Regions from separate parts of the Homo sapiens genome. Here all the other regions are reported to be linked to region 1. Evidence: microRNA targets listed by miRTarBase, many of them from high-throughput screens and not tested one by one. Region 1 holds a microRNA gene; each other region holds the end of a gene's coding sequence. Distances are from middle to middle.
Evidence for each region. Region 1 holds the annotated microRNA hsa-miR-5688 (UAACAAACACCUGUAAAACAGC, at 1,446-1,467, opposite strand). A microRNA usually pairs through its seed, bases 2 to 8, with sites in the 3' UTR of a target mRNA and lowers its output. Matches are read on the target gene's strand: a 7mer-m8 pairs with bases 2 to 8, a 7mer-A1 pairs with bases 2 to 7 and ends in A, and an 8mer does both.

Region 1 (4,000 bases):
GGGAAAAATTACTTTTCCAAACACCTACACTAAATATAGTGTAATGGGCATGGTCTGTAGCCTGACCAGCTTTCCATCCCTTTTTGCTACTTTCAACAAAACTTTAATTTGTGTACCTTTTCCCCCAGCGGCTCCATGAGACAAATTCTCTCCTAACTCCCAGAGTATTCCTTACTCAGAGAGATTGCTTTAGGAACCCAGACTGAGCCAGGAGGCTTAGCCTGCCTGTGGAACTGCTATTGTTTATATGGTGGGGTAAAGTTAGGGACAAGTAAATAAAGATACAACATACTGAAGGGAATGATTTTTATTCCACCTATGAGAATATTCCACATATGAGAAATGCCTGCCTTTCATACTGGATGCAAATGGGGAAACATGTTGTCCTGGGCTTTTCTGTGTTTTCTGGCAAATATGAAGATTTTCTCCCTCAAGTGTGTGCTCAATTCCTCCCTTCTCATTCTCACACTTTAGTAGTAATCCTTAACATGCAAAAGGTAGTATTCACGGTGTTTTCACTTACATTGTCTCTTTTAATTATCCTTCCAACCCTGGTAAGTATTTCAGTCTCTAGTCAACAAATACAAAAACTAACCCACAACAAGGTTTAAGTACTCTGCCCACAACACGCACACTGTCAGTGAGAAGCACAGCCCAGGTTTGAAATTCTGTTTTTATATTCTAGCTGGAGCAAGCATCCCACATGGACAAGGATGAACCAAGAATTTGGGTCTTCAGACAACCTGCTAGTTTAGGAATGGTCACTCAGAGGTCTCACCCTACTGCCTTAATTGTGAATTTCTTAGCTTGCTCAGTTGCCCTATCTAGTTGTTCTCCCCACCCAATTCCCATTCTCCAGTTTCAGGATGGGACCTGCTCTCCTTAATACTTTATACTTTCTTGTATTCTCTTTGCTAAGGTTGGACCACGTTCCCTACAATCTCTACCTATTTATAAATGGTTTATCAACTAAGTGCATATCTCTCAAAGTAACCACCACCAAAAATGACTTTCAAAATAATTAGCTACCTTGAATTTATACACAGGTATGAAATCACTCCTGAAACCTCCAGAGGCCTGTGGTCTCTGCTTACTGCAGCCTAGTGAGTACGATGGCAAGGATGCAAATAAAGTAGTATGTAGTTAGGGGAAAGCCGAGATTCCTTCAAACATAGCTTCTCACTTTGTTCTGCATGATTGTTCATATGGTACTTTGTTCTATATTTATTTGTTTTAAATATAATTGTTAATGCAAATTAGAATGTCTTCATTTATTCTTAAAACATGATATGAATGTAACATGCAAAATGAATATGTGTACTATGCTCAGTAGAAACTTTTTCAGAATAACATCCAATTTTATGTCAAAGCGAGAATGTTCAATTTATACAATCTTAAGGCATCTAGTTTCCAAAAAAAAAAAAAAAGAGAGAGAGAAACACTTTGCTGTTTTACAGGTGTTTGTTATGTTTCTATGTCCAAAACATAATAAACTCCTGTAAAAAGGCAAAGTGTTTCTCAAAGGGTATTTTCGGTTGAAAAAAAAAATCAATGTTGAACATAATTAAAAAAGAATATATTCTCTCTCCACTGAAAAAAAATAGGGATCACTCAAATAAATTGCTCTTAACAACATGAACCTGCCAAAACTCAATTCTTTCCTGTGCTATTATTTATTTGATAGATTTTACTACATCATAGCCCAACCTCATAAAACAAGGATGAATAAGTTATTTACCAAAACATATCCATGATTAAGTTTTATTTACTTGCAAAAGGCCATAGGACATGCATTTCTAAACATTAACAAATGAGCCATGTCTATGATTCTCTCCCCTACTATCAGTTAATCTATACATTTTCCCTCCCTGCTCACTCTCCTCCCAAACAACATATATTTTTTTCTGTTTTGAAAAATTCAGCATATCATTGTTTCTTTTCTTAACTGGTTAAGGGTTGCAAATGTAAATGAATAAAAAATAAACAGTGTGTCGCCTGGGCATGGTGGCTAACGCCTGTAATCCCAGAACTTTGGGAGGCTGAGGCAGGTGGATCACCTGAGGACAGGAGCTTGAGACCAGCCTGGACAACATGGCAAAACCCCATCTATACTAAATATACAAAAATTAGCAGGTGTGCTGGAGCGCACCTGTAGTCCCAGCTACTCAGGAAATTGAGGCAGGAGAATCACTTCAGCCTTGGAGGCGGCAGTGGCAGTGAGCCAAGATCACACCACTACACTCCAGCCTGGGCCACACAGTGAGACTCCATCTCAAGAAAATAAATAAATAAATAAATAATAAAGTAAACAAAGCTTTATTGGAGGATATAGGAAAACATTTATATATTTATATGCAATTGGGTATATAATCTTTCTTTTTTCCTGAAATAAAAGGTCAATAAATTCCAGTAATTTGAAATTTAAAGCTTTTGTTTATAAAGGTTTATCAAAGGTTGCAGTATAAAAAGAAAAGCCACATACCCATGGAAAATTATATAATTGTTATATATATATACACACACAAGTATACACTCACACACACACACACACACACATTTTTTTTGACAAAATATTACACAGAGAATAATAAGCTTCTGACCAATAAGAAAAGGAGGGCGGGCGCGGTGGCTGACGCCTGTAAACACAGCAGTTTGGGAGGCTGAGGCGGGCGGATCACCTGAAGTCAGGACTTTCAGAGGAGCCTGGCCAACATGGTGAAACCTCGTCTCTACTAAGAATACAAAAAAATTAGCCGGGCGTGGTGGCGGGTGTCTGTAATCCCAGCTACTTAGAAGGCTGAAGCGGGAGAATAGCTTGAACCCCGCAGGTGGAGGTTGCAGCAAGACGGTACCATTGCACTCCACCGTGGGCAACAAGAACAAAACTCCATCTTAAAAAAATAAAACAAAAAATAGAAGAAAAAAAAGAAAAATTTAACACCCAATGGTGAAAAATGCACACATGCATTTCAGCAGTGCATTCTATAAGATATATGGATACTCTCTACATAATCAGCAAAAAATATATAACAATGGGATGTCGTTTTTCTTTCTTCAGACAGGTACAGATTTAAAAGATACCATAACAAGAATATGCAAGAATGTAGAAGTAGAATATGCAACATTGGTGGAAGTGTAAACTGGTATTATTTCCTTGAAACCAATTTGAATTTTTCTGGCAAATTTGAATATTTGCAAATTATTTAATCCAGCAGTTTCATTCCTGGAAATTACTGCACATGTACAACATGATCATGAGATATTTATTAGTCTTTTCAGAGAAACACAGTTTTTAAAAGAAAAATACTTAGAAATAACTCAATTATTCATCAAAGAAGAAATGATAAATAGTGGTAAGTTATATTCATTAAACAAAATACTATATAGTGGTGGAAATCAACAAAGGAATGGAACTTTTTTGAAAACAAAATATCAAAGGAGGAACAGTGAGTATTGAAGAATGTATACAATATGAAATCATTTATATAAAATTTAAAATCATAAAAAGTTTAAATATATTGTATAAATAATGAAAAGAAAATAAATGATATAAAAATGTTCAAACGACTGGTTAACCTTGGGAGGAATGAGAATTCCAATGGAGAGAAAAATGAGGATAATTGAATGAAATGGTTAGTGGTCAGTTATTTAACTGGATGGTGGTAAATGTTTATATGTATATATATATGTATATATATATATATATATATACATATATATATATGGTTTTATGTATAAAGTATTATATTAACTTTTTTCCACAATCTTGTGTATGAAATGCTTAAAATATGACTGATATATTTCTAATTTTCTGATTTATCTAATTCAATTTATCTAATGAAATTATCTAATTTCATATTTTTGAAATTGTCTAATTTTAGCACTGTTAAAAGAAAACTTCAGACAAATTAACAGAGTTTAATTGAGCAAGACAAACAAAAAACAAACAAGAAAAACAATTCACGAATCAGGCAGTCTCCAGAGTCACAGCAGATTCAGA
Region 2 (4,151 bases), not on the chromosome of region 1:
GAGACAGCCAGGCAGGAGTGATGATCAGGATTGTGTTCAGTTTTCAGCATGTTTCCATGTACCCAAAAGTTAAGAGTCCCATCTACCTCTATAGTAAAACAAAATGATAGTAAATACATTCCATAAAAATGTTTTTCAAGCCATCAGTTTTGTTTCCGGCCTTATCTGTCAGTATTCCTTTCAGGCACATTCTGAGATTCACAACTGTGTTCTTTAAACAGCCAAAATTCCCTCTTCTCCAGCATGAGCTGGAGGGTCAAGGGGTGATGGGAGCTGGTGGCTGCTGCAGAAACAGGTTCTTGCTGGGCCTTCCAACTCACTAAGCAGGCTGTGGGGCCTTGCTCTCCATGCTCTTCTGCCTTCATACTTGCTGAATCCGAAGGCAAGATCCTCTCCGATGTTACCTCTTGTTCAATAAACCTGCAAATTCGCGATACTGCCACCTCTAGTCGCCCTGGGATGTCCACTGCATCACCCACTTAGCACAGGCCCATTATGACTCCCTGAAGCACAGGCTTCCAGCTCAGAGGGCAGCGCACTGTCTCCACCCCTGCCCAATGATCCACTCAGACCCGGGAGGCTGTGGACAGCGCGTCCTCTGAAATGCTGGTCTCCACACCTGCCTGGGGCTGGGGCACCATGGGTGGATAAAGAAACTGACCAGCAGAAAGTGACTATTCTGCACGTGCAGGCGTGCACACAAGGTAATTACCCACAAGCCTGCAGAAACTCACACGAGCACAACTGCCTCGCTTTCCCATTCATATGTGTGGCACAGCTTACTGGCTGGTGCTAGCATACTACACATAAATACATTTATAGGAAAATAATTAAAATGCTGAAGTCTATCTATTTGAACTTCTTCCTCATCGGTAAAGCTGGGAAAGCTCACTACTGTGTAGCTGGTGCCAAGGAGCAGCCTGAGACCCCGCCTGCAGCTGTCCCTAAGACTTTCCTCTCCCCATACAGAAACCAGTTCTACTTCTTCACTGTTCTTCTTTCTTCCCTCTGGAATTCAGGGGTTAAATCCCTTCCAGGGTATTTGGATGCCTGCAGGAAGGAAACTGGAGAGAGGGCCCAGCCCTGTGCAGCACAAGGCTCCCTGCTCAGTGTGGCACCAGTTGGGCAGCCGTCAACATCTGTGCCAGTGTTGCCACCTGGGCAAGTCTCTGTTCCTGGGGCATGTCCAGGTGCAACATGAAGAACATCGTCATCCTTTCTCGCCTGGTTCACTCCATCGCAGGATGGAGCCCACCAGCAGGGAACCCAGACTTCCTTGACCCAGATGGTGGCTGTCCCTGTATGAGGGCTCTTCAGAAACGCCAGGACAGGCCCAGGGCATTTTCAGGAGCTCTTAGCAAAGCAGCCTCAGTCCGTTTCCTGGCAATACCCTACACTAAACCAGCCTCTGGGGAGAGACCTGTGGCAGGGAGGAATGCAGACGCCCTGCTGGCCTGTCTCTGACCCCTCACATGCTGCACTCATATTAATTTTCCAGGATTCCTGAAGTCCAGCCTCAAGGGATATGTGACAGAAAAAAGGGAATCAAATGCTCTTTTGTCCTATGGGCAAACTTGCTTTAATTTAAAGCACTGTGAGGGCTGAAGGCAGATGATCCTGTCTCCAAGCATGGACTCTGGCCAGAACCCCCTGGAGGGCAGAAGGCAGGGAGCTGTCTGCAGAAGGGCCAGTGGGGTCCACCCCCAGGGGCAGCAGGGATGGTCACGAAGGAAACCATGCCAGGAAGGGCAGGTGGTGGACCTCAGAGAACGGCACAAAATCGTAGCACCCAGACACGAGGCAAAAACTCCTATCTGGTCAGATCCTGATGCACTCCAGGTCCCTGTCTGTCCTGGAGCATTCGTGTGACCCAGCAGTGTCCTGGAGACAACAATGAGGCTGTGGGGGACAGCGGGGTCCCGAATGTTCCTTCTGTATATTCCCATTGACACAGAAAGGTCATAGTGCATTTCTCAAAGCACTGCCAATCTAAATGGTCAGGGGGGGTCTGATAAGTATATCTATATCTGATATGGGGCCTTGCTTTGTCACCCAGGCTGGAGTGCAGTGACACGATCATGACTGATTGCAGCCTCGACCTCCCGGGCTCAAGCAATCCTACTACCTCAGCCTCCTGAGTAGCTGGGACTACAGCTACGCAACTGTGCCACCTCAGAGAAGTAGATTTTTAAACAAACCCAATTTTCTCTTGCTGTTAACAACACTGAAGACTAGTAGCAGAGGAGTGAAAGTGTGGGTTAAGAGCCTTAAAAACTTGTGGAAAGGGCTCGATGCCAGTGGAGAGCACTTAGTTATTTCAGTGAGAAGAGAGCACCTAAACCTGGGTCTGAAAACACATGAAAACTCCAGGCCTTGCTCCCGGCCCTTCTGCACATTGGGGGCGGGGCCAGAGCTCCACTGATGGCCTTGCTCATGACTTCATCTAGAAACTGAGCAACAGGATTTCTAGATTTCAACGCCCAAAGCATCCACCCACCCACAGAGACCATCACACCAACACAAGCATGAATACAAAGTGAAAGCATGTTCTTGGCATGAAAACCATCTACTCACACCCCACCTTGCTCCTAAAGTAGCAGAACCTGTTCCACCAGCCAGGGGTTTATACTCCCTATCTTAATGGGATTAATGGTTTTCATGGGGCCATAATAGACTCCAATTTAAGAGATTTTCAAGAATTGCCATAGAATGTTTTGTGGTGGTTAAAAAGGTCTTCCTCAAACTGTTAGAAAAAGCAAAATTGTTAGTATAGGTTTACTTTAACCAGGCTCTTTTAAAGATAAATGCTGCAAGATAGGTTTTCAGAGCTCAGATTAATTAAATGAGAGTTAAGATCGGAGTCTCAATAAACACTAATGTGCTGTTCTCATCAGATTCTGACATCCTCTGTACTTTCTTCTTGACTTAACAGGGGTCTCCTCTCAACCTTTTCCAAAGCAATGTGACGGTTTCTTTTCCAAAAGGTAAAAAAAAAACCCAAACCCCCAAACCTTCCCCCATTTTGAATGATTCCTGGGGGGAATTCATTTGTTTTTTGCAATCAGAGTCTGAAACCTGGGCTGCAGGTCAACAATCTCGAGCAGTTATGAAAAGACCAGGGTTACTGGAGACCAAGAAAGGAACGAGCGGAGGAAGGAAGGAAGGAAGGAAGGAGAGGGGCCGGGGATTTTGTGCAAGATTTAATAAAAAACAAACAAAAATAGGAATGGTTGCTTTCAACATTTTCCAGGTTGTGAAAGGTTTGCCACGACTCTCAGGGGTGTGGTTCTAAGCTGCATCAGTGGAACAAATACAAAATGCTGTCCTCCTCCTGGGCTGGAAGGCAGTGCACTTTCTCCTCTTAACAGCCAGACTAGCGGGTGAGGAGTCAGTGCTGTGACCCAGGCCAAGCTGGAGTGTCCGCATAGCTTTTTCTCTGACCAGTGGGGATTCCATCTACCTTGAGGCGTGCTGGCTGGGCCCCGTTTCCACACCAGCACATGGTGAGACAGGGTAGCTTATCAACAGGCTGCTGGGCCTTAATACTGACAGTGAGTGTGGCGGGTCACAGCCAGGAAAGGACTAACACAGATGCCCTCCCAGCCCCCACTGCTGGCCTAATTTTAGAATACCACGGAAAAAAGCTTTGATGAAGACAACAGGAAGTCAACACAGCAGAGAGTGGTGTGGACAACCCAGAAGCCAGCCTCACGCATTCCATGCCCACAGTTAACGATGACAACAACAGCAATAATAATAATAATAATAAAACAAAGGTACAGGTGAAAAGCAGCGCTTGGGGTGTGCTGCTGCAAGCTGGGGAAGGCGCGTGCTCAACTTGGATGGGACACACCTAGTCTTTCTTCAAGTCCCTGGATTCAAAGAGCTTCAACCGTTCTTGCACCGTCAGGCCTTCCTTCAGACTCTGGGTAGAGACAGAGCAGGAGGAGAAAATAAACACACCGTTAGACCCCCTGCACTGGACCGGACCGGACCAGACCGGACCGCTGGTGGAGCCGGCATCAGTCAGAGAGCCGGGTGCAGGTGCGGTTAGTGGGCATGCCAGGAGGAGAGTCCCCGGGAAATGCTGTTATTGGAGGATGTTTTCCCCTTCACAAAATTACTTGGATGAAAAAGGAAAAAAAAATCAG
Region 3 (4,127 bases), 21 Mb from region 1:
GCCAGCCCCTGCTTTAGACCATGGTGAGTATGTTGGGCTTCACATCAGTTCAGAAGGCCTGTTTACTGTGTGTATAAGAACGTTTTCCCAAAAAGCCAGTGCAGGCCCTGAAAGCATTAACCAAGCAGGCAGGCTAACATGATGCATCTCCTTGCAGGATGGTACCCGAGTCGTAGGGAAATGCGGTGGTTACTGTGGAAAATGCACTCCATCCTCTGGTACTGGCCTGGAGGTGCGAGTTTTATAGCTAAGGTAAGTAGTCCTATGTCTGTCTGTCTGTGTATTTGTCTTTTATTTTTTTCTGTAGCCTATATGAGCAAATGTGGGAGGATCAGGCAGGGTTACAGTTAAGCATCTTGAAGCTGACCCAATACAGTTCTACCTTTTTATCTCCTGCTCCTCTGTCCTCACGTGACTGAAGCCATCAGTTCTCTGCCATTAGACATGGCTTCCCCTCTACAGAGCTGGCCTATTTATTTATTTGCTTTTAGATTTTAGATTCAGGAGGTACATGTGCAAGTTTGTTACACTGTTATAGTGTGTTGAGATGTAGGCTTCGTTTGAACCCATCACCCAAATAGTGAAAGTAGTATCCAATAAATAGTTTTCCCTTCCCTTCCTCCTCCCTTTTGGAGTTACCAGTGTCCATTATTTCAGTCTTTATGTCCATGTGTACCCAGTATTCCACTCCCACTTATAAGCAAGAGCATATGGTATTTGATTTTTTGTTTCTGTGTTAATTCACTTAGGAAAATTGCCTCCAGCTGCATCCATATTGCTGCAAAGGACATGATTTCATTATTTTTTATGGCTGCATAGTATTTCATCATGTATACAGACCACATTTTTAAAATCCAGTCCACCATTAATCGGTACCTAGGTTGATTCCACGTTTGCTATTGTGAATAGTGCTGCAATAAACATGTGAGTGCAGGTGTCTTTTTGGTTGAATGATTTATTTTCTTTTTGATATATACCCAGTAATGGATTGCTGGGTCAAATGGTAGTTATATTTTTAGTTCTTTAAGAACTCTCCAAACTGCTTTTCACAAAGGATGAACTAATTTACAGTCCCACCAACAGTGTATTCCATTTTTCTCTGCAGTCTCACCAATATCTGTTATCTTTTTACTTTTTAAGAATCGCCATTCTGATTGGCATGAGATGTTATCTCAGTGTGGTTTTGACTTGCATTTCTGTGATGATAAGTGATGTTCAGCATTTTTTCTTATATTTGTTGGCTGCTTGTGTGTCTTCTTTTGAGAAGTGTCTGTCCATGTCCTTTGCCCACTTTTTAATAGGGTTATTTGTTTTTTTCTTGTTGATTTGCTTAAGTTCCTTATAGATTCTGGATATTATTCCTTTATCAAATGTATAGGTTAAAAATGTTTTCTCCTATTCTGTAGATTGTCCATTTATTCTGTTGATAGTTTCTTTTGATGTGCAGAAGCTCTTTAATTTAGTTAGGTCTCCATTATCAATTTTCATTTTGTTGCATTTGCTTTTGAGGACTTAGTCATAATTTGTTTGCCTAGGCCAATGTTCAGAAGAGTATTTCCTGGGTTTTCTTCTAGAATTTTTATGTTTTGAAGTCTTACATTTAAGTCTTTAATGTATCCTGAGTTATTTTTTGTATATGGTAAGAGGTAAGAGTTCAATTTCATTCTTCTGTATATGGTTAGCCAGTTTTTCCAGCACCATTTATTATAGGGTGTGCTTTCCCCATTGTTTATTTTTGTTGATTGTGTTGAAGTCCAGTTGGTTATAGATGTATAGCTTTATTTCTGGGTTCCTTATTCTGTTCCATTAATTTTTGTGTCTATTTTAGTACCAGTACCATGCTGTTTTGGTTACCTTTAGTTTGCTGCCTTGGAGTAGAGTTTGAAGTCCGGTAATATGATACCTCTGGCTTCGTTCTTTTTGCTTAGGATTGCTTTCGCTTTTAGGCTCTGCTTTGGTTCCATATCAATTTTAGAATAGTTCTTCTTCTAACACTGTAAAGAATAACATTGGTAATTTGATGGGAATTTTGTTGAATCTGTGTATTTCTTTGGGCAGTATGGACATTTTAATGCTATTGATTCTTCCAATAGATGAGCATGGAACGTTTTTCTATTTGTGTCATCTATGATTTCCTTAAGCAATGTTTATAATTCTCCTTGTAGAGCTCTTTTACCTGCTTGATTAGATGTATTCCTAGGTATTTTATTCTTTTTGTGGTGACTGTAAATTGGATTGCATTCTTGATTTGGTTCTCAGCTTGAATGTTATTTGTGTATAGAAATGCTTCTGATTTTTGTACATTTATTTTGCACCCTGAAAATTTACTGAAGTCATTTTTCAGGTCTAGGAATCTTTTGGTGGAATATTTAGGGTTTTCTTTGTATAGAATCATATTGTCAGTGAAGGAAGATAATTTGACTTCCTCTTTTCCTCTTTTGATGTCTTTTCTTTCTTTCTCTTGCCTGATTGCTCTGGCTAAGATTTCCAATACTATGTTGAATAGGAGTGGTGAGAGTACACATTCTTGTCTTGTTCCCATTCTTAGGAGGAATGCTTCCAACTTTTGCCTGTTAAGTATGATATTGGCTGTGGGTTTGTTAGAGATGGCTTTTATTTTGAGGTATGTTCTTTTGATGTCTTATGCCTTGTAGGTTTTTATCATGAAGGGATGTTGGATTTTATCTAATGCTTTTTCTGCATCTATTGATATGGTCATATTGTTTTTGTTTTTAATTGTTTGTGTGGTGAATCACATTTATTGACTTGCATATGTTGAATGATCCTTGCCTGCCAAGAATAAAGTCCACTCGATCATGGTAGATTATCTTTTTGGTATGTTGCTGGATTCAGTTTGCTAGTATTTTGTTGAGGATTTTCATGTCAATGTTCATCAGGGATATTAGTCTGTAGTTTTCTTTTTTTCTTGTGTTTTTGCCAGGTATTGGTATCAGGATGATAGAGGTTTCATAGAATGAGTTAGGAAGGAATATCTCTTCTTCGATTTTGAAAAAATTGTTTCAATAGGATTGGTACCAGCTCTTTGCAGAGCTTATTTAAAAGGCTGTTTATTGGGCTGCATCTCTAGGGGTCCTGCTTCATTAGGTCTCTGGTGGATTCAGGGATCTGTAACTTTAATACAGAGAATTCTAATGCAAGTGAATCACAGCTCATCCTTTGAGAAATACATCCCAAGAATGTAATAGTAAAACTACAGTGGCATTTGTTGAGCAATATTTCATTGAATCCTCACAACAAAACTGTGTGGAGGAGCTGCTATTTTACATATGAGGAAGCTGAGGCCCACAACAATTAAGTAACTTGCTTAAGATCATGATGAGGCTGGGCACGGTGGCTCATGCCTGTAATTCCAGCATTTTGGGAAGCTGTGGCAGGCAGATCACTTGAGGTCAGGAGTTTGAGACCAGTCTGGCCAACATGGTGAAACCCCATCTCTACTATAAATTCAAAATTTAGCTGGGTGTGTTGGCACATGCCTGTAGTCCTAGCTACTTGGGAGCCTGAGGCAGGAGAATCGCTTTAACCTGGGAGACAGAGGTTGCAGTCAGCCAAGACCACGCCCCGCCACTGCACTCCAGCCTGGGTGAGAGAGTAAGCCTCTGTCTCAAAAAAAAAAAAAAAAAAAAAAAAAATGAAAAGGTAATGATAAATTCCCTCGGCAGAACTCAGAGTGTCCTACACTAAAGCCAGTGCTCTTAATCACTCCACTGTGCCACACCCCTGTTACTCATGGTGTGGTCCAAGAATCAGCTCGATCAGCTTTACCTAGGAACTTGTTAGAAATGCACAATGTCAGGCCTCACCCTATACCTGTGAAATCAGAATCTGCATTTTAACAAAGTCCACAGGAGTCATGCATGTTAAAGTTCGGCAATCCCTGACCTGAGTACATTATGCCAGAAGGTGATTCTTCTGCTGAGTAAAAGACGGAACTGGTCAGTCTTTTTATCATCCCCATGTCTTCAGCTGCAAGGAATGAGCTCAACCAATTCATGTGACCCACCTGCATCTTCCCTCAAGCTTCCAGTAGCCCATTACCGTGTAAGGCTCTTGAAGATCCTGATACAAGAGTGCCTATTTGACATTTAGGATTATTTCTGTTACAA
Region 4 (4,151 bases), not on the chromosome of region 1:
ATGGTAGTCTCAATTCTTACCACTTCCTGCCTCGCCTATGATACACCAGCAACACCAGATTGCTTGTAATTCTTGACAAACACATAACACAGCTTGTTCTACCTCTGGTGTTTGTTCACAGTACCCACTCTGTCAGGAACTGCCATAACCCTCATTCTTATCCTTAATCAAATTGCAATTCAGTCACTACTTTCTCTAGGTAGCCTCTTCTAATTTATCCAGACTACTTTAGGTAACCCCGAGTTTCTATAAACTCATGTTCATGTCAATTACTGCACTAATTATATAACGGTGTATGCTCTGGTGTTTCTCCTACCAACTACACTGTGAAGTCCTTCAGGGAGGCAAATGTGTCTTACTTATCTCTGTATCCCCAGTACTTAGCACAGCGTTTGCCACGTTAGGTACTCAATAAATATTTGTTGAAGAAAGGATTCAATGGCATTTTTATCAACATTATTAACAACTCTTCAGCCTAGTTTACTCTGAAGGTAAACTAGGGTTATATAATTTTAGATACAGTTGTAAATACAAACACATATAGTTGTTTTACTTCTCATTTATTGTTGTTTTGACCTCAGAGAGTCAAAGATGTAAATGGAGATGTATATTAAGTATGAAGAAATAGGGATACCTCTGAGAAATATCAACCAACATATGATATGCAAAAAAAAAAAAGGGGGAAATTGTGTGGTGAGAAGGTCCATCAACCCAAAAATAATGGCCATAAAGTGCCAGATAATCTAGTTCCAGATGCAAACCTAAATATAAATTCTGCCTGCATTTGGTGAAAATGACATGCATTAGGTTGTAAGAATATGAACCAAATATCAATTATCTGCTTGAAGAAGTTGAACGTGTTTATTATATTAATAAATTCAACCTTTACTATTATAGAATGTTATAATAATTTCTAAAGTGAATATTGCTTGAATTTTAAAATATTGATAATTATATATATTAAACCTTGAAGTGATTTCAGAGATAATCTGGTACAATATTTTATAGACGAAAGACACCAAGGCCCAGGGAAACTAAGTGACTTTGTTCAAGATCATACAGGTAGTTAGAATGACCAGGACTGTTTTACTGCTAAATTCAGTTTTCCTTCTGGTACATACTGCCTGGGAGGGAATTTCATTAATTTTCTTCTAAAACATATTCATGAGATTTGCATCCAATCTCAATAATAATATCATATTAGAAGAAAATTACTTCAGTGAAAATAAATTTTTATTCAATTTCATAAACTATGCTAAAATTATGGGAAATTTACTTAGAAATGCCAACATCATTTCTGGGGGGAAAATTACTGATCATTAAAATATTTTAATTTGCATACTACATTAGTTAACGAGGACTGACTTTTGCTCTTCTCAGTCATTATTGTGTCACCATTCAGAAACCTAATGAGCCAATTTATAATCTCTACAATTAACAGTAATAAAACTTACAAGTAATTAACTATTTCACTACAATTACTATCATTTTTAACTATCTTACTCAATGGAATAAGGTCATTGCCTTTGTAGCATTTTCTAATTATTTTTTAATATTTTATTTTACTGTTATTTTTTCAAGGCTAGTCAAGTCAAGCAGTGGGAGTAAAGAAACACCACTGCACTTGTGCCAGCCTCGTTTTTAAAAAAGCTTTATATTAAAAACCGATTTTTAAAATCTTGATAATCGAAGAATATTTTCAAAAAACTAGCAGCAAAGGCAAAACAAATCCCTAAAAACCTACTGGCTCTGTATTTTTTCTCCCAGTAACTGACTGACCTATTTAAACAAAAGCATTTCCTTTTGAGAGGCCCAAATGACTAAATTAGGTTATGGAAGGGTTGAAAGCGTGAGAGCTCTCATGGCTGCAATGCAGAGGGCTGTGGATACAGCTTCCCTAGAATTTAAGCATGGGTAAGCATATGTTAAGAGGAGTTATAAGGCTCCCTGAGTCTTACTGAGGGTATCCACATTGGGTGCCAGGTGAAACAAGAATCAGTAAACCTTTCTAGCCTGTGAGGTTAAGTATACTTAGCTGATTTCACTATCATGAATTCACCTGCAGCCGTATCTATAGGTTATCAATTTGAAAATTTCTAAGCGCACCATAGTGAGGTATTTGCAATCTTTGGTGCTGTGCCATGACATTGGTTGATGTTCGATGCTTCTACAACATAAGCATTTACTTTAGTGGACATAAGGGCTACCTAAGTATTAAGCAAAGTAACACTGATCAATGTGAAAATAGAAATTTAAAAAACGTATCTACTAATATGTGTTTGAAAATGCTTACCCATATAAAATTTCCATTATTATACAAAGGCTTTCATGATGCAACTCCCTGGCTCTTAAATTTTAAAAAGTACAGAATAAAATTCTCAATTCTTTTTTTGACACTTTTTACTCTTGAGTTTGCCACTAAAGTAAAAGAGAGAAACATCCCAAACTGGTCATTTATGAAAACGTTAAGTTCAGTGTGAAACTTGCTTTAAAACTACAAATTATGTCAGACAAAATAAATATATATGCTCACATTTATAAAATTTTCCACAGTACTCATAGAAACAAGCTTCATAAAATTTATACTGAATACAATAAAAATCAGTTCTAATAAAGATTTAGCTATCTTCCTAAATAAAAATTTCTGTGTTTGAGGTATCACTGTAAGACATGCCAATATGGCACATTTGTAAAACAACCCAGGAGTCTATTCTAAAAATCACAACCAACTCAGCATCATCTCTGCAGACTTACTAACAGGCTGAACTAATCTCTTTATACAAGAAGTATTTTAATTATTACAAAAACAAAGGAGGCAGGTACTAGAAATTCTGCATTTCATAGAAGAGTAAAACTTTGTTAGAGATATTTTCATGATCATCTACCTGCAGACACCATTCATTTAAAAAGTCCTAGTCAAGACCATTAAGCAGCTGCATCTTCTACAACATTGAAAAAAAATCCCTAGAGATTTAAAAAACTGAAGAATTTCACTATCTTTAAAAGATATTATATTTTAGTACATAAAGCTATTAAATTTCTCTGTGTCAAGAGCAAAACATTACCCCTTACCTTGCTTCATCATTGGAAGGTGGACACCTGATCCAGCAATACTCATTAACTGCTAGGTAGATGACCCATGTTGATGGCAGTAAAGCCATTTTACAATGAACTTATGAAGTAGTAACACTAGCCAAACACACAGAGACACAAATACCAAAAATGATGTGTTTAGTATACACAAATAGCTATACTTGGGGCATGGCTATCAAGTAACAAGACTGATTTAATACTTTACAGTTACAGCACATTAAAAATATATTGCCAGAGGGATAATGGTCCCAAATACGAAAAATGTCTATATGGAAAAGGCTGTGATTTATTGCAAAGCATAATATATAGCAAATTCCAAGGAAGGGCAAACACGTTTTAAAAACAAATTTTTAAATTTAACGGCTTAAGCCAAAGTCTCAGTTACTTTCTGGAGAATTCAGAACTATTAGGTGTAGAAGAATGCTTTTCCTTTTTTCTCTTCTTTTTTTCCTTTTTGTGATGTTTCCCTTTTTTTGATTTACTCTTTTTTTCTTTTTTCTTTTCTTTCTTCTGATATTTTTGTTTCTTTTGTTTTGAAGTGTCCTCTTCAGTGGAACTGGATGAGTAAGACCTATGGATAATAATACATACTGACTGAGAATTGCATTTATGACTGATAGATAAATTTAAGTGGGATTTGAACTGCCTTAAATTCTTCTTGGAGTAAGGTAGGGAGTATAAACATAAACTTAAAAAATGCTTCATATATTTGCATTCCCTTAAAACGATGAATTTAGAATTTTTGCTGCTTGGTCACAGAAACCAACAAAACTAGTATCTATTCCACTCAATACTAATGTAATGAGTTTTAAAGTCAATAAGGATGAAATTATTTTTCTGTGATTTTTGGTTTTTCATGCAGTCATATCATTCAAAATCCTAAAAGGCAAACAAAGGGGCATTCACCAAGCCTTATTATATTCACTTGTGTATACAATAACTTCGCATATTTTCTTAAAAGTGTCTCAAAAGTTGCAATTCTCTATTTTAAAGGGCTATAATTGTACGTTCATATGAATGAATGAAAGCTGAAAGTTAGCAAAATAAAAGCACTTTTG
Region 5 (4,144 bases), not on the chromosome of region 1:
GGGGGAGTCCTCATCATCATCGCCTCCTGCGTCATCAACTTAGGCGGTGAGTGGGGGCTTGGGACAGGCAGGGGAGGAATGGAAGGGTTGGCAAGGGCAGCTTTACTAACCCCTGCCCCTGCTCTCTCCTGTCTGTCCTCCTTACCTCTCCTTTGTCTCTCCTTGTCTCCCCCTCCCCCCGTCTGTCCTTCCCTCTCCTCTCCCACAGTGTATAAGTGAGGGGCTCTGCCCCGCATCCCAAGACTTTTCTTCCTGTTGGGAGCTGCCTTGGGCCCATCCCTCCCCTGGGGGGAGCCCAACTGATGGCCCTGGCCCCCACCCCTAAGGACCAAGGGAGCCTGAGCGGCCTTGTTTACAGCTTCTGTCCTGCTCCTGCATCTTGCCAGGCTCCTCTGCCAACTGTAGGCCTGCCTCATCCCTGCACTGGTTCCAACCTCCCTGCACTAATGCCTGCATCCCCTCCGGCCTCTTGGCCCCCTATCCCTGCACTTCTGGAAACCTCCCTGCACTCTGGAAACCTCCCTGAACACCTCCCCAACTCTGCGCTCTCAGCCTCCCTGCATCTCTCCTGGCCTCCCTGCACTTCTTCCAGCCCCCCAAATTCTCTGGACCTCCACCCTGGCCGCCTCCTCCCAACTTTCATTGTCTTGGCATCTCTCAACCCTCAGTCCTCTCTTCCTTCCCTTCTTTATCATCTCCCCTTTCCTCTCCACGTCCCGCCCCCTTCCTCTTCCTGCCTCCTCATCTCCCTTAAGCATCCTCTTCTCCAACCTCCCGTCACCGTTTACTCTGCAAAATTGACAGCACTTAGACGAGGCTTGGGGGCAGGGAGCAGTGTTGGGAGAGGGCTCCCCAACCCCAGGCTCGGACTGTTCTCTGCTGGGACCACCCAGGGTCGGACACCCAAGGGTGCCTGGCAGGTCGCAGAGTTGGCAAGCCGGGCCTCGTATGGGGACTCGGGTGAGGGTGGCGAGTACTGGTTCCGAACGCACGCAGGGGAGAAGGGAGGGACGCGGCGCTGACCCTTCCAGGTCAGCTGGAGTTGACCCGCCCACCTGGGCTTTTCAACCCCAGTCCGCGAGTTTCTTTCTTGAAGGTGTGGGGGCTAGATTCATTCACGTGCTTCGTAATGAAATAATCCAAAAAATAGGACCAAAGCGCCCACTGGCAGGAGCGAGGGCGGGGCGCCGCGCTCTATAATTATTTTCTAAGATGATGGGGGAGGTTTGTTGCACGCGACAGCCCGCTGAGGAGGCGGGGACCGAGCTACAACGCGGTTCGGATTTGGCGGGGGTTTTTTTCCTTAAAAAAAAAAAAAAAAAAAAAAAAAAAGTCTGGGGGAAGAAAAAAACTAAAATTCTTAAAAAAAAAAAAAAAAGGCTATTATCAAACTGATTTCTCCCTTTTTGTATGCCGGATGCTGCATGAGTCTGAAACACCAATAAACGGAGACTGCATGAGACTCGCCTCCAATCTCGGTTGGTTCCTGCGTTCGTCCCGCCGGCCCGGCGGTGCTGCCTTTCTGGCAGAACCTTACTGGGTGGTATACGCATGCGACTTCCCGGTGGCCATCTTTACTGTGGGCTGAAGCCTGTGCGCTTACTCGCGCATGTGCAAGCCTTCCCTCGCTTTCCTCTTCCAAGTAGCCTTGCCTAGAGCGGAGCCTCCCGCGCCATTTCTGTGCGCCTGCGTAGCGTGACCCTGCGCAGCCTGGGAGGCGGGTCTTAGCTCCAGGTGCGTACGGCATCTGACTTGACGTGGCCCACAACTGAAAGGTCTGGGGAGAAGGCGCCGTGTCCGGGTGTGGAGAGGGGCGTCGTGGAAGCGAGAAGAGTGGCCCGTCCCTCTCCTCCCCCTTTCCCTCTTTCGGAAAGTGGTTTCTGCGGGGCCCGGGAGCCTCGGAGTACCGAACCTCGATCTCCGGGGCGGGGTCCTTGGTGGGGACTGAGCGCCCCCTCCCGGGGACGGGCGGTCTGGCCGCGGAGTCCCCTGCGGGAGCGTGATTGGCTGGAAACGGTCCCGAACCCCCAGGGGAGCCCGATCCCTGGGGGACCCTGGCTTCGGACTCCAGTATCTGTCGTCGCAGGGTCCCTGCCCTAGTGGCCTATGTCCCTTGCTCGGGGCCATGGAGACACTGCGGCCAGTACGGCGGCGCCTCTGTCTGAAGAAGGGGAAGTGACCTCCGGCCTCCAGGCTCTGGCCGTGGAGGATACCGGAGGCCCCTCTGCCTCGGCCGGTAAGGCCGAGGACGAGGGGGAAGGAGGCCGAGAGGAGACCGAGCGTGAGGGGTCCGGGGGCGAGGAGGCGCAGGGAGAAGTCCCCAGCGCTGGGGGAGAAGAGCCTGCCGAGGAGGACTCCGAGGACTGGTGCGTGCCCTGCAGCGACGAGGAGGTGGAGCTGCCTGCGGATGGGCAGCCCTGGATGCCCCCGCCCTCCGAAATCCAGCGGCTCTATGAACTGCTGGCTGCCCACGGTACTCTGGAGCTGCAAGCCGAGATCCTGCCCCGCCGGCCTCCCACGCCGGAGGCCCAGAGCGAAGAGGAGAGATCCGATGAGGAGCCGGAGGCCAAAGAAGAGGAAGAGGAAAAGTAAAGGCACACCCTTACACCTTGTCCCGGGGCTGCTCCCCTGATGGCGGGAGGAAATAGGGAGGGGAAAATGTGGGACGCTGGAACCTTTGAAAGTGGAGGGAGGGAAGCCAGCGGGGGAGGAGGAACGGGCAGGGGAGAAGCACACGTGTGGGTGGGAGGGAGGACCGCCCTCACCCTTAACTATGTTCACCTGTCCCAGACCACACATGCCCACGGAATTTGATTTTGATGATGAGCCAGTGACACCAAAGGACTCCCTGATTGACCGGAGACGCACCCCAGGTACAAACGAAGAGGAAACAGTTGGGGGAGGTGAAGGGCCTCGGCTCAGTTACCCAAGATCGGCTCCCCTAGAGGCCTTTGCTTGCTGCCTCAGCTCCCACACAACTTACAGCTGCAGGAGAGAGTATTCACCCAGTAGCACCATCTTTATGACTTAGATTACTACCTTGTCTTCCTTTTTTTTTTTTTTTTTTTTTTGAGATGGAGTCTTGCCCTTGTCCCCCAGGCTGGAGTGCAATGGCACGATCTCAACTCACTGCAACCTCCGCCTCCTGGGTTCAAGCAATTCTCCTGCCTCAGCCTCCCAAGTAGCTGGGATTACAGACGCATGCCACCACTCTGGGCCAATTTTTGTATTTTTAGTAGAGACAGGCTTTCACCATGTTGGCCAGGCTGGTCTTGAATTCCTGACCTTGTGATCCGCCCACCTCAGCCTCCCAAAGTGCTAGGATTGCAGGCATGAGCCAATGCGCCTGGCCCCTTGTCTTCCTTTAAGAGACAATTATAATACAAAAAATTAGCCGGGCATAGTGGCGGGCACCTGTAGTCCCAGCTACTCAGGAGGCTGAGGCAGGAGAATCGCTTGAGCCTGGGAGGTGGAGGTTGCAGTGACCTGAGATCACACCACTGCACTCCAGCCTGGGCGAGAGAGTGAGACTCCGTCTCAAAAAACACAATTACAGATAATTCTTTTTTTAAAAAAACAACTAGTCATTGATTCTGGAAAATTACAGATAATTCTATCATGTTTCCCATTCCCAGAAGTCCAAGTCCTGGCCTTTCAATATTATCTAGATCTGCATCCCTCTACTACCATGTACATTCTTTAATCACACCGCTGGCCCCATTTCCCACCCCACATGCCTTCCTAGAATTTACCCTCAGAGTCATGCCTTTCCTTTTTTCTTTTTTTTGAGGGGTGGAGAGACAGAGTCTTGCTGTGTTGCCCAGACTGGTTGGTCTCGAACTCTTGAGCTCAAGTGATCCATCCGCCTCGGTTCTCAAAGTGCTGAGATTACAGGCATGAGTCACTGCACCCAGCCTAGAGCCATTCTTGATTTCTCTCTCTTTTACCTGAACATTCACACCAGCAGCAAGTCTTGGTAGCTATAAGATGTACATTTCCAAGTACCTCTGCTAGTCTCCACTTTCAATACCACATCCCCATCCAAGCCACTGTCTTTCTTGCCTGGATAGTTGTAGTAGCTCCTAACTGGGCTCTCTGCTTCCAGCTTCTGCAATTCAGATGAACCTTTTAAAACATAAATCAT

Region 2: miRTarBase lists MPRIP as a target of hsa-miR-5688. Seed matches in the 3' UTR shown: 7mer-m8 at 3,210-3,216 and 7mer-m8 at 2,192-2,198.
Region 3: the mRNA of ADAMTS9 is a reported target of hsa-miR-5688. The part of its 3' UTR that is shown has no 7-base or 8-base seed match.
Region 4: the mRNA of SREK1IP1 is a reported target of hsa-miR-5688. The part of its 3' UTR that is shown has no 7-base or 8-base seed match.
Region 5: miRTarBase lists PRRT2 as a target of hsa-miR-5688. Seed matches in the 3' UTR shown: 7mer-m8 at 1,225-1,231.

Annotation. Positions count from the first base shown.
Region 1 is chr3:85,383,228-85,387,227 of GRCh38, reverse strand. It overlaps MIR5688 (microRNA 5688), which reads right to left and starts at 1,518; the gene lies at 1,436-1,518. All of the region lies in intron 1 of CADM2 (cell adhesion molecule 2), which reads right to left.
Region 2 is chr17:17,184,597-17,188,747 of GRCh38, reverse strand. MPRIP (myosin phosphatase Rho interacting protein) reads right to left here. Exons shown (of 24, transcript NM_001364716.4): 24 at 1-3,925. The coding sequence ends at 3,854. Among named protein-coding and RNA genes, the nearest start is that of PLD6, 20 kb to the left of the region's middle. RefSeq lists enhancers at 2,360-2,429, 2,460-2,659, 3,447-3,947.
Region 3 is chr3:64,518,291-64,522,417 of GRCh38, reverse strand. ADAMTS9 (ADAM metallopeptidase with thrombospondin type 1 motif 9) reads left to right here. Exons shown (of 40, transcript NM_182920.2): 39 at 158-252. The coding sequence ends at 247. Among named protein-coding and RNA genes, the nearest start is that of ADAMTS9-AS1, 41 kb to the left of the region's middle.
Region 4 is chr5:64,720,910-64,725,060 of GRCh38, forward strand. SREK1IP1 (SREK1 interacting protein 1) reads right to left here. Exons shown (of 5, transcript NM_173829.4): 5 at 1-3,664. The coding sequence ends at 3,475. Among named protein-coding and RNA genes, the nearest start is that of SHISAL2B, 32 kb to the left of the region's middle.
Region 5 is chr16:29,814,420-29,818,563 of GRCh38, forward strand. PRRT2 (proline rich transmembrane protein 2) reads left to right here. Exons shown (of 4, transcript NM_145239.3): 3 at 1-46; 4 at 209-1,462. The coding sequence ends at 219. It overlaps PAGR1 (PAXIP1 associated glutamate rich protein 1), which reads left to right and starts at 1,733. Exons shown (of 3, transcript NM_024516.4): 1 at 1,733-2,588; 2 at 2,791-2,873. The coding sequence starts at 2,107. All of the region lies in intron 2 of MVP-DT (MVP divergent transcript), which reads right to left. RefSeq lists enhancers at 443-1,072, 965-1,184, 1,435-1,684 and a silencer at 1,875-2,044.